Homo sapiens: one gene and its partners. The protein of the gene in region 3 interacts with the protein of the main gene of each other region in a pairwise test. Each region holds a gene or a part of one and is shown on either strand. Other genes may lie near its edges. The genes, in order: SS18L2, PCDHB12 and EMC2.

Region 1 (3,753 bases), on a different chromosome or scaffold from region 3:
TCTCTGAAAGCTTTGGGGAATTTTCCTGAGGAGGAAGCCTGATGTGGAGTTAACAGTGCAGGCTTGGTAACCAGGAAGCCCTGAGTCCGCCCCAGCTCAGGTGTTACCTCACTTCTCTCACCGGGTTTACCTCTCTGTGAAATGGGATGAAAGCAGGCCGGGCACAGTAGCTCACACCTGTAATCCCAGCACTTTTGGAGGCCGAAGCGGGCGGATCACGAGGTCAGGAGTTCAAGACTAGCCTGACCAATATGGTGAAACCCCATGTCTACTAAAGATACAAAAAAAAAAATTAGCCGGGTGTGGTGGCAGGCACCTGTAATTCCAGCTACTCAGCAGGCTGAGGCAGGAGAATCGCTTGAACCCGGGAGGCAGAGGTTGCAGTGAGCCGAGATCACACCACTGCACTCCAGCCTGGGTGACAGAGCGAGACTCTGTCTCAAAAAAAAAAGAAAAAAGAAATGGGATGAAAGCTGCCTTTTCACAGGTTTGAATAAAGGGATTGTGGAGAGAAAGCCCAGTAAAGCAGATGAGCTTGCTCAGGATCAGGGCCACCACTCAGGGGAATAAAGCTCTAGGGACCTCCCCTTTTTAGGAGTGTAGGTTCCCAAGATCTCCCTCCTAAATGAAGTGGCCGCTGCTCACTCCAGGGAAAACGAATCTTGTTACCACATCCACCACGGATGGCTAGAACAGGGGACCGGTACCGCATAGCAGGAGGTGAGCAGAGGGCGGATAAGCATTACCGCCGAGCATTCTGCCCCCTCAGATCAGCGGGGGCATTAGGATCAGCGGGAGCATTAGATTCTCACAGGAGCGTGAACCCTATTGTGAACTGGACTTGCAAGAGATCTAGGTTGCGCGCTCCTAATGAGAATCTAATGCCTGCTGATGTGAGGTAAAAGAGTTTCATACCAAAACCACCCCCACCTCCGTGGAAGACAAGAAAAATTGTCTTCCACGAAACCAATTCCTGGTGCCAAAAAGGCTGGGGACCACTGGTCTAGAAGACTACAACCAATTCAGTTGCAGTGGTCACCAGGAGTAACCATGTGGCCCAAGAAGGTATGTCCAGCTTCCTCCTTGCATCTTGCGGCACAACACCTTTGCGGTATGGTGCCTGGGCAGTCCCGGGTTGTTAAGGGTGAGAGTTCTAAAGCCAGGCTGCCCGTATTCAGAGACTGGCTTTGCTAAGGAACCTTGGGCAAGTTACTTAACCTGTTTCGTCATCTGTAAAATGGAGAAAATACCAGTGCTTTTTAGGGTTGCCAACCTAATAAGCATTATTCCTGCCCCAAATAAGTCCAGGCTATGTGGAAAAACGCGAATTTCTCGTTCAGCAAAGAGTAAAGCTAATACCAGAGTTTTCCTGGCCTGCAGATTTGGCCTGGCAGGAGACAATGCCATAGCCAATGTTCATGCTCCAGATGCAGACCTGGAGGCACAGAGTGATGTAGAGAGGACAATGGATCTGAAGCCATGTATCTGGGTGCCAGACACGCTGGGTGAAGCCGAGCAAACCGCTCCTGCAGATAGATTGAGTATGCACACCCAGCACTTTGGGAGGCCGAGGCGGGCGGATCACGAGGTCAGGAGACCGAGACCATCCTGGCTAATATGGTGAAACCCCGTCTCTACTAATACAAAAAATTAGACGGGCGTGGTGGCGGGCGCCTGTAGTCCCAGGAGGCGGAGCTTGCAGTGAGCTGAGATGCGCCACTGCACTCCAGCCTGGGCGACAGAGCGAGACTCCATCTCAAAAAAAAAAAAAGCATGCACAGCCTAACACTGGAGGTGCTGACGCCAGGTAGGTCAGCAGTAGACCCAGCCCCAACCCACAAGTTTCGCTCTCCAGACTGCGCAAGCGCAAAGGATACGAAAACGCCCCCGGCGTTCTGGGGGCTGGGACCGAGGAAAGCGCTGAGTATAGCTCTTGCGCGTCCAGTCACAAATGACGTCCCTTCTGTACCCCGCCCTGTAGGCGGGAGCATCCAATCAACTTCGAGAGCGTAGGCCCCACCTATCGTGGGTCGAGTTGCTTGGCGGTCGTGGTTCCGGAGGTTCCTCGGGATGTCGGTGGCCTTCGTACCGGACTGGCTGAGGGGCAAGGCGGAAGTCAATCAAGAGACTATCCAGCGGGTGAGCATCCACGCGGGCGGGCGGGCGGGCGGAGAGAAGTCGGGATCCCGAGGGGCTGCGGGGTGCGAGAAGCATCCTGTAGTGAGCGGCCTCCCAGCTGACTGTGAAGGGTGCTGAGCAGCCGGGGTGCGGGGTGAGATGGGCACGAAATCAGCACAGGCGCCGGGGCAGGACCCCGGCATGGGGTTCGGTCCCCCGCCGTCCAGACGTCACACTGCACTAACCCTTTCTCTCCTTTTTTTTTTTTTTTTGAGACGGAGTCCCGCTCTGTCGCCCAGGCTGGAGTGCAGTGGTGCATCTTGGCTCACTGAAACCACCGCTTCCTGGCTTCAAGCGAGTCTCCTGCCTCAGCCTCCTGAGTAGCTGGGATTACAGGAGCGCGACGCCACTCCCGGCTAATTTTTGTATTTTTAGTATGGGGTTTCCCCATGTTGGCCAGGCTAGTCTCGAACTCCTGACCTCGTGATCCGCCTAGATCGGCCTCCCAAAGGGCCGGGGTTACAGGCGTGAGCCACTGCGCCCGGCCTGCACTGACCCTTTCTTTCTCTGATCTTTCAGCTCCTTGAGGAGAATGACCAGCTGATCCGCTGTATTGTGGAGTATCAGAACAAGGGCCGCGGGAACGAGTGCGTGCAGTAAGTACCCCCACCCCCGCGCCCCTGACCTGTGGGTAGAGGGGAAGCCTGTGTGATGCGGTGCTTTCTCGAACTAAGAGTCTTGGGTGATTGATCGCAGTTAAGCCCCTCTTTGAACTGAGGAAAGAGAGGCTCAAAGAGTTTGCCAACCTGCCCAAGACCATACAACGAGTACACTGCGGAGCCTGGAGTCAGACGTGGCTCTTTCTTCAAAATGTGAATTATTCTCACTGCAAAGCCTCCTTCACTCAAAGCTATGCCGGCTGATGACAACAGGGATGGGGGTGAGAGCACACAGAAAACTAAGCTCAGGAGATTAGAGCCATGGCCCCTTTCTCATCTTGGATCCCTGCCTCATCCTTTCTCTGTTAAGTGAAGGGGTCAGGCCATTTGACTGCTAAGCTTCCTCTCATTTCTAACTTCCCGTCAGTCTGTTAGTGACACACACACAAAGACAAACAAAGGATTTACAAGTTAAGTCAAAGGTAAATTGTGCATAATAATTTAATGCACTCCCTAAGTAGATACCAAAATGAGAGAAAATAGAGTCTGAGTCTCTTTTCCGAATCTAGTCCAGGTATTACGCCCATTTTTTTCTTTTCTTTTTTTTTTTCTTTTTGAGACAGTCTCCCTCTGTCACCCAGGCTGGAGTGCAGTGGTGCAATCTCGGCTCACTGCAACCTCCACCTCTGAGGTTCAAGCAATTCTCGTGCCTCAGCCTCTGAGTAGCTGGGACTACAGGCGTGTGCCACCACGCCCTGCTAATTTTTATATTTGTAGTAGAGACAGGGTTTCACCATGTTGGCCAGACTGGTCTCAAACTCCTGACCTCAGATGATCCACCCACCTCGACCTCCCAAAGTGTTGGAATTACAGGCATGAGCCACCACGGCCGACCTTATGCCCATTTCTTATAGAAAAATATATTATTTCATTGTTACTGAAGAAATGTTTCACAATCCCTACCCCCTAGAAAAAT
Region 2 (3,753 bases), on a different chromosome or scaffold from region 3:
ATCCTTAACTGACTTCAGTCTTCTTAAACATCTGGTTCCTCCAGATCTTGCGCTTAAAAGAGATTATGTTTCTTGTGAGTATCTTCAATGCAGGAACTTTACTTTAGGGGCACTTTTTGGAACTGCTAAGTTAATTGCTCTTCCACCTGCTTTCTGTCATAGAAAAATGTATGTGTTCACTTGTGTATTCTTAATCTTTGTTAGTTCCTACCATTTTAATTACTTTTCTGCCATTTTAGTGCATATTTTTTTTTAAAAAGAGAGGTTAATTGTGTGTGCTCAATTCATCTACTTTTCAAGTTTTACCCTTCTGTACCAATTACTATTTCAACCATGTATCCAGCTTACATTTTTAAGAATATTAATTGAATTTAACATTTTAAAATGCAGACTTGTTGGATTCTTCTCCCATCCATTCTTAGTGCACTTTAAGACTTTCTATAGTGAATATCACTGATGAGCCCTTAGCATCTGTTGCAAACAGTCTCCCTCATTTTGTACCAATGAGGTACTTTGGCTAGGACTGAAACCTTCCCAAGCTTAAGAGGTGGTCCCAGACAGGATTAAAACACAGTAATGGCCAGAGACAGGTCTTTAGATTCTAGGACTAAAATCTCCAACTATAATTCTATACCTCTTGAAACAATGATTGCTTCAGTGGCAGACACATGATCTTACTTGGTCTAATTAGAGTGAAAGTTAGGTTTTTGTTCTATGTTTAGGGATAGACTCTTACTTTCTCTTCCTGGGCTGAAAGAGAAAACAGATAGCTACAGTTGTGGCTACAATAAATTTTGGGAACCTAAGGCAAGTCAGCTTTAGGAATAAGAGTCTGCTTTAAATTAAACTAACTTGCTCATGCTTGTGTACTTATGAATTTTTTTGTAAATTATGAAAAACTGGAACTAAATGATGGGTTTACATAACATGTTCCACCCCAATCTCTTGCTTCATTTTCTGCCTGTTCACAATTCATTGCTATTAAGGAAATCTACAGAAGTGCCTTTTTATGCTGTTGTGTTGACCTATATATGCCTCATCTCATGGTTAATCCAGTTTCATAACTTCAGAAAGGATTTCTGAGATGACCTTTCCTTTACCTTATCACGTAAGGAAAGCCAAGTAGTAATAGAATTTCATTCAGCTTAACAATCACTTATACCCTGCTTGTTTCAGGCTTACAATTGTCTCAGAAACACTATGAATTCCTGGGAGCCAGGGATCACATCTTGTATCTGTGTTTACCACAACTGAACACATTTGGTTGTGAGAAGAGTGGGGAAAGACACTGAATAAATGCTTTAAAACAAAATCATCATCACAAACTATAAAGAATATAAAACGATTATTATGGAAGATAAAATATATTTTTAATTACTTCAACAGAAGGAATTATTTAAACGCAATATTTATTTGCTTCTGGAGGACATTTATGTAAATAAAATTTAGGTAGTGTTCATCAAACTGTGAAAATCTGTGGAGACGCGTGGTGGCGCTGCAGGATAATATCAAGAAAAAAATTACCCTGGAGGATGTTGTAGACCCTGTTATCCAGTACACGCGGAGAACTGGGAAGACAGAAAGAACAATCCTTTAAGGGAGAACCTAGAAGCCATTCAACAAGGTTAAAATCTTCAGGCTTCCGAGGATTTGGTAGACAGATCAGAGGCACGTTTCCCACAACTGCGAAGAGGCGCTGAGGCAATTCTGCAAGAAGATTTTGGGGTTTTGGAAAAGAAGCTATGGAAAACGGAGGGGCAGGCACTCTGCAGATAAGGCAAGTCCTGCTTTTCTTTGTTTTGCTGGGAATGTCTCAGGCGGGCTCTGAAACTGGGAACTTTTTGGTGATGGAGGAATTGCAGAGCGGGAGCTTTGTAGGAAATTTGGCAAAGACCCTGGGACTCGAGGTGAGTGAGCTGTCTTCGCGGGGGGCTCGGGTGGTTTCTAATGATAACAAAGAGTGTTTGCAGCTGGACACAAACACTGGGGATTTGCTCCTGAGAGAAATGCTAGACAGGGAGGAGCTCTGTGGCTCCAATGAGCCTTGTGTGCTGTATTTCCAAGTGTTAATGAAAAACCCCACGCAGTTTTTACAAATTGAGCTCCAGGTCAGGGATATAAATGATCACTCTCCCGTCTTCTTGGAAAAAGAAATGCTCTTAGAAATCCCAGAGAACAGTCCTGTTGGTGCTGTGTTCTTGCTTGAAAGTGCAAAGGATTTAGATGTAGGAATCAATGCTGTAAAAAGCTACACAATAAATCCGAACTCTCATTTCCACGTTAAAATAAGAGTCAATCCAGACAATAGGAAATACCCTGAGTTAGTTCTGGACAAGGCGCTGGATTATGAAGAGCGCCCGGAGCTCAGTTTCATCCTCACTGCTCTGGATGGCGGGTCCCCTCCCAGGTCTGGAACTGCCTTGGTCAGGGTGGTGGTTGTAGATATTAATGACAACTCCCCTGAGTTTGAGCAGGCTTTTTATGAGGTGAAGATTCTGGAGAATAGCATCCTTGGCTCCCTGGTTGTGACCGTCTCAGCCTGGGATTTAGACTCTGGAACAAACAGTGAACTATCCTATACCTTTTCCCATGCCTCAGAAGATATTCGCAAGACATTTGAAATTAATCAAAAGTCTGGTGACATTACTTTAACAGCACCTTTGGATTTTGAAGCAATTGAGTCATACTCAATAATCATTCAAGCCACAGATGGGGGAGGACTTTTTGGAAAATCTACAGTCAGAATTCAGGTGATGGATGTAAACGACAACGCTCCTGAAATCACTGTGTCATCAATTACCAGTCCAATCCCAGAAAACACTCCAGAGACTGTGGTTATGGTTTTCAGGATACGAGACAGAGACTCTGGGGACAACGGAAAGATGGTTTGTTCTATCCCGGAGGACATCCCATTCGTGCTAAAATCTTCGGTAAATAATTACTACACTTTGGAAACAGAGAGACCGCTGGACAGAGAGAGCAGAGCCGAGTACAACATCACCATCACCGTCACCGACTTGGGGACCCCCAGGCTAAAAACCGAGCACAACATAACCGTGCTGGTCTCCGACGTCAATGACAACGCCCCCGCCTTCACCCAAACTTCCTACGCCCTGTTCGTCCGCGAGAACAACAGCCCCGCCCTGCACATCGGCAGCATCAGCGCCACAGACAGAGACTCGGGCACCAACGCCCAGGTCAACTACTCGCTGCTGCCGTCCCAGGACCCGCACCTGCCCCTCGCCTCCCTGGTCTCCATCAACGCGGACAACGGCCACCTGTTTGCCCTCAGGTCGCTGGACTACGAGGCCCTGCAGGGGTTCCAGTTCCGCGTGGGCGCCACAGACCACGGCTCCCCGGCTTTGAGCAGCGAGGCGCTGGTGCGCGTGCTGGTGCTGGACGCCAACGACAACTCGCCCTTCGTGCTGTACCCGCTGCAGAACGGCTCCGCGCCCTGCACCGAGCTGGTGCCCTGGGCGGCCGAGCCGGGCTACCTGGTGACCAAGGTGGTGGCGGTGGACGGTGACTCGGGCCAGAACGCCTGGCTGTCGTACCAGCTGCTCAAGGCCACGGAGCCCGGGCTATTCGGCGTGTGGGCGCACAATGGCGAGGTGCGCACCGCCAGGCTGCTGAGCGAGCGCGACGCGGCCAAGCACAGGCTGGTGGTGCTGGTCAAGGACAATGGCGAGCCTCCGCGCTCGGCCACCGCCACGCTGCACGTGCTCCTGGTGGACGGCTTCTCCCAGCCCTACC
Region 3 (3,753 bases):
TTGTCTTCTGTAATTAACTTAATTTGGCAAACTTCTCATGACCTGTTCAGAAAGATTAAGTGATCAAACACAGGTAACATCATAGAAGTAACAAGCTTCAGGAATTGGTAACCTGTCTCTGACCCCTCTGGCTACAGCTTAACATTATGATTCCCTCACTTCCTACACTCTAAACCATTAGATTAGTTTCTGTAGCTGAATCCTGATTTGAAAAAGTAAATAAAGGATGTTTCTAGGGGAAATGCCAGAGGAAAAAGAAAAAAAGCTTCTCATAAAAATCAAGATCACCTTGCCTTTCAAAAGGCATCACGAATTTAAGGAATTCATATGTTAAATATGGTAACAGCAATATCACATTTAAAATTTTGTCTTTTTATAATTTCCCCTGAGGACTAAAGGCTGTGAGGCATGCTTATTACTTCTGTTATCCAGTTAATAAATTCACTTACACAAGGATTTACCAGAAACAGAAAGCTTTTTCATTTACCACCATTTATGAAACATAAATAGGAACGGTCCTAATCAGATACTTAAAGGTCTAATTCTGAGAAAAAGTTTTATGGGTTGGGGGAGGGGTACAGAATAGGACATCACATAGTAACATTACCACGTAACATTTATTCTAATTGCTTTTAAATAGCAAAGTAAAAATAAAAAAAATTATGTAGAGCTAAAACCATAACATGTATTTTTAAATACAGTATTTTTCTTGGTTTATACTTAAACATAAAAATAATACAGTGTGATCTTTTAAAATTAGCTAATTTTAAAGAGTCAACTGAGATGGTGTCAACATTACTCACAACCAGTGCAATTTAGAATAAACCAAATAAATTTACTTGTGTCAGAACAAATAAAAGAAAGTTGGAAATACAAATCTATCACTTCAAATTTAATCTGACATGCAATTATTCTGTCTATTCCAGAATTGTATGGCAATTTAACTGATTAAGTCAGAATCATTTTTTCCCTCAAATCATGATTTAATTTTCTGTTTCCCAAAAGGATAGTAACAGAATCACTGCTGCAATCATAAATATCATATAAATCACTAGCACAGATTTACCAGTGCAACAAAGAAGGATTTATCTGGAAAATCATTGTGAGTAGGTTCACATTAAAGTTTTTCATGTGCATTAATCAAATGTGTCTGCTTCTACTGAACATGCTAAACCAATTACCTAATTGACGAGCAAATAGTAGCCATATTCTGTTTCATCATTAAGTGGAAACAAAGAAAGAAAAGCAGTTCTTGAAACCTAATTTTCCCTAATTTATAAATACGTAGAAAAATCCCATACGAAATATTATATACTCTATACCGGTTTATATTCCTAGATATGATTAAGAAATTCTCACTGAGATCCCAAAGATTTACCTAGTTATCAAGAATGTCATTCTCTGAAAGTTATATACTCTTTTACATTATTCACAAATACTGTATTTTTGTTTTCATACAGTTAGATTTTGCTTAAGTAAATCTTTCATAATTCTCTGTAAGATCTATAAGAAAACTCACCAGAAAAAAACACAAAAACAACCAAACAATAAAAACTTGCTTATCAAATTCAGAGGTCAGTGATTCATGCATTGTAATAACTGAGATACCTTGCTTGGGCTTAAATTTACCTTTACATAATTTGTGGAAAATACATGGGTAGACAAAGTAATAGGAAAAATGAAATGGACTGTAAATGAATGAATCTCAAAAACATGCTGAGTGAAAGAAGCCAGACACAGAAGAGCACATAACCTATGAACTCATTTATACAAAGTTATAGCACAAGCAAAACTAATGTTTGGTGATAAAAATCAGATCAGTGCTTGTCTGTCTCCCAGTGGGGGATGAGGTTGACTGCAAAATGGCAGAAGGAAAGTTTCTTGGGTGATGGAAATGCTATTTTGAGTGGGGGGCTGGTAAGGGGATGTACACATTTGTCAAAACTCAGACTGTATACTTAAAATATATGCACTTGATTACATGTAAATTATATCTCAATATACCTCAAGGGGGTCTTGTCACACTGAAGAGACAGGGAAAAGGAAAAACATAATAACTTATGTTTTAATTTCTTTAATTCTCAGAATATTTCATTATGGCCATCTTGCAGAAGAAAAGATACAGCAAGAGATGTTAGGTAATTTATCCAAGTTTGCATAGCTAATAATTATATCAGAGTCAAAATTTGAACCCAGACAACATGGGTTCAAATCTGTAATCTTCTCTTTACTACATTGAACTAGCTTCCATGGACGGGACTCATGATGGAACACAAAGATGGACAGAAACACTGGATATCCATATGGGGAGCAATGGACCCCCTATTTCACATCATACATAAAAATCAATTCCAGGCCAGATGCGGTGGCTCACACCTATAATCCTAGCACTCCATTGGGAGGCTGAGACAGGAGGATTACTTGAGGCCAGGAGTTTGAGACCAGCCTGTGCAATACAGCTGGACCTCATCTCTACAAAAAATTTAAAAGTTAGCCGAGCACGGTGACATGCGTCTACAGTACCAGCTAGTTGGGAGGCTGAGGCAGGAGGATAACTCAACCTGGGTGGTTGAGGGTGTAGTGAGCCATGATCATGCCACTGCACTCCAGCCTGGGCAACAGAACCAACCAGATTCTGTCTTAAAAAAATAAAAATTAAAAATTAAAAATAAATCAATTCCAAATGGGTTGTGGATTAAATACGAAAAGTAAAAGAATAGAAATTCTGAAGACACACAGAATTCTTTATGACCGTGAGTAGCAAAAGATTTCTTAAACAGAACACAAAAAACACAAACAAATGACTGAGGCATTCGAACACATTTCATTTCAGAACTTCTATTCATCAAGATCATATGAGCAAAAAAGTAAGAAGTTATACATATTTGCTTATACATATAACTAAAAAAGGGCTCATAAGCAAAAAACTAAAGAAATAAGTCATGCAAACCAATGAGAAAAACATTTCACGAAAGAGGACATCCAAATGGCAACTGATCATCAGGGACATGCAAAATAAAACCATGAAGTACCACTCTACACATGTACCAGAATGGCTGTAATTACAAAGACTGACAGAACCATGTGTTGGTGAAGATGTGGGGCTATTAGAACTCTTACCGCTGGTGGGAGTAAACTAATTTGGAAAATTGCCTTTAACTACTAAAGTTAAATATACATACATTCTATGACCCATATTTTCACTCAAAGGTATACAGAACTGCACATATATTCCACCAAAAGACCTGTACAGCAATATTCAGTATAGTTTATTCAAAATAGCCCAAACAGAAAATATTCCAAATGCATAGCAATAACTAAATTATAACATTCATACAATGAACTACAGAAGAAAATGAATGAACTACAGACACAAACAAGGATAAATCCCATAAACTGAATAATGATAGAAATATGCAAGACAAAAATGAATACATACTGGCTGATTCCATAAACTATAGGGTTATAAGTGAGTACTCTTAAGGAATACAAAAGGAGAAATTAAGAGGACTTACCAAGAGAGCTTTGGGATGCTGCAATGTTTATATTTATTAGCCTGGATACATTTACCTTATATTAGTCACTGAAAGGCACATTTATGACTTGCATCCTTTTTTCTGTTATAATTCTTATTTCTATGTTATTAATTTAGTAAAAATTGATTTTAAAATAGTTATGTCAAAAAAGCACTCTGAGTAGCTGTTTCTCATATCTTAAAAACAATTATGTAGTATGCATAACGTTACTTTTATA

The links.
Region 1: the proteins of EMC2 (region 3) and SS18L2 interact in binary tests that used the Homo sapiens proteins (3 or more experiments, as listed by UniProt).
Region 2: the proteins of EMC2 (region 3) and PCDHB12 interact in binary tests that used the Homo sapiens proteins (3 or more experiments, as listed by UniProt).

Annotation. Positions count from the first base shown.
Region 1 is NC_000003.12:42,588,828-42,592,580, forward strand, and holds the start of SS18L2 (SS18-like protein 2), read left to right. Parts: upstream 1-2,032; 5' UTR 2,033-2,070; coding exon 2,071-2,139; intron 2,140-2,697; coding exon 2,698-2,774; intron 2,775-3,753.
Region 2 is NC_000005.10:141,207,166-141,210,918, forward strand, and holds the start of PCDHB12 (protocadherin beta-12 precursor), read left to right. Parts: upstream 1-1,553; 5' UTR 1,554-1,742; coding exon 1,743-3,753. UniProt on the Homo sapiens protein: Potential calcium-dependent cell-adhesion protein. May be involved in the establishment and maintenance of specific neuronal connections in the brain.
Region 3 is NC_000008.11:108,481,488-108,485,240, reverse strand, and holds part of EMC2 (ER membrane protein complex subunit 2), read right to left. Parts: intron 1-3,753. UniProt on the Homo sapiens protein: Part of the endoplasmic reticulum membrane protein complex (EMC) that enables the energy-independent insertion into endoplasmic reticulum membranes of newly synthesized membrane proteins.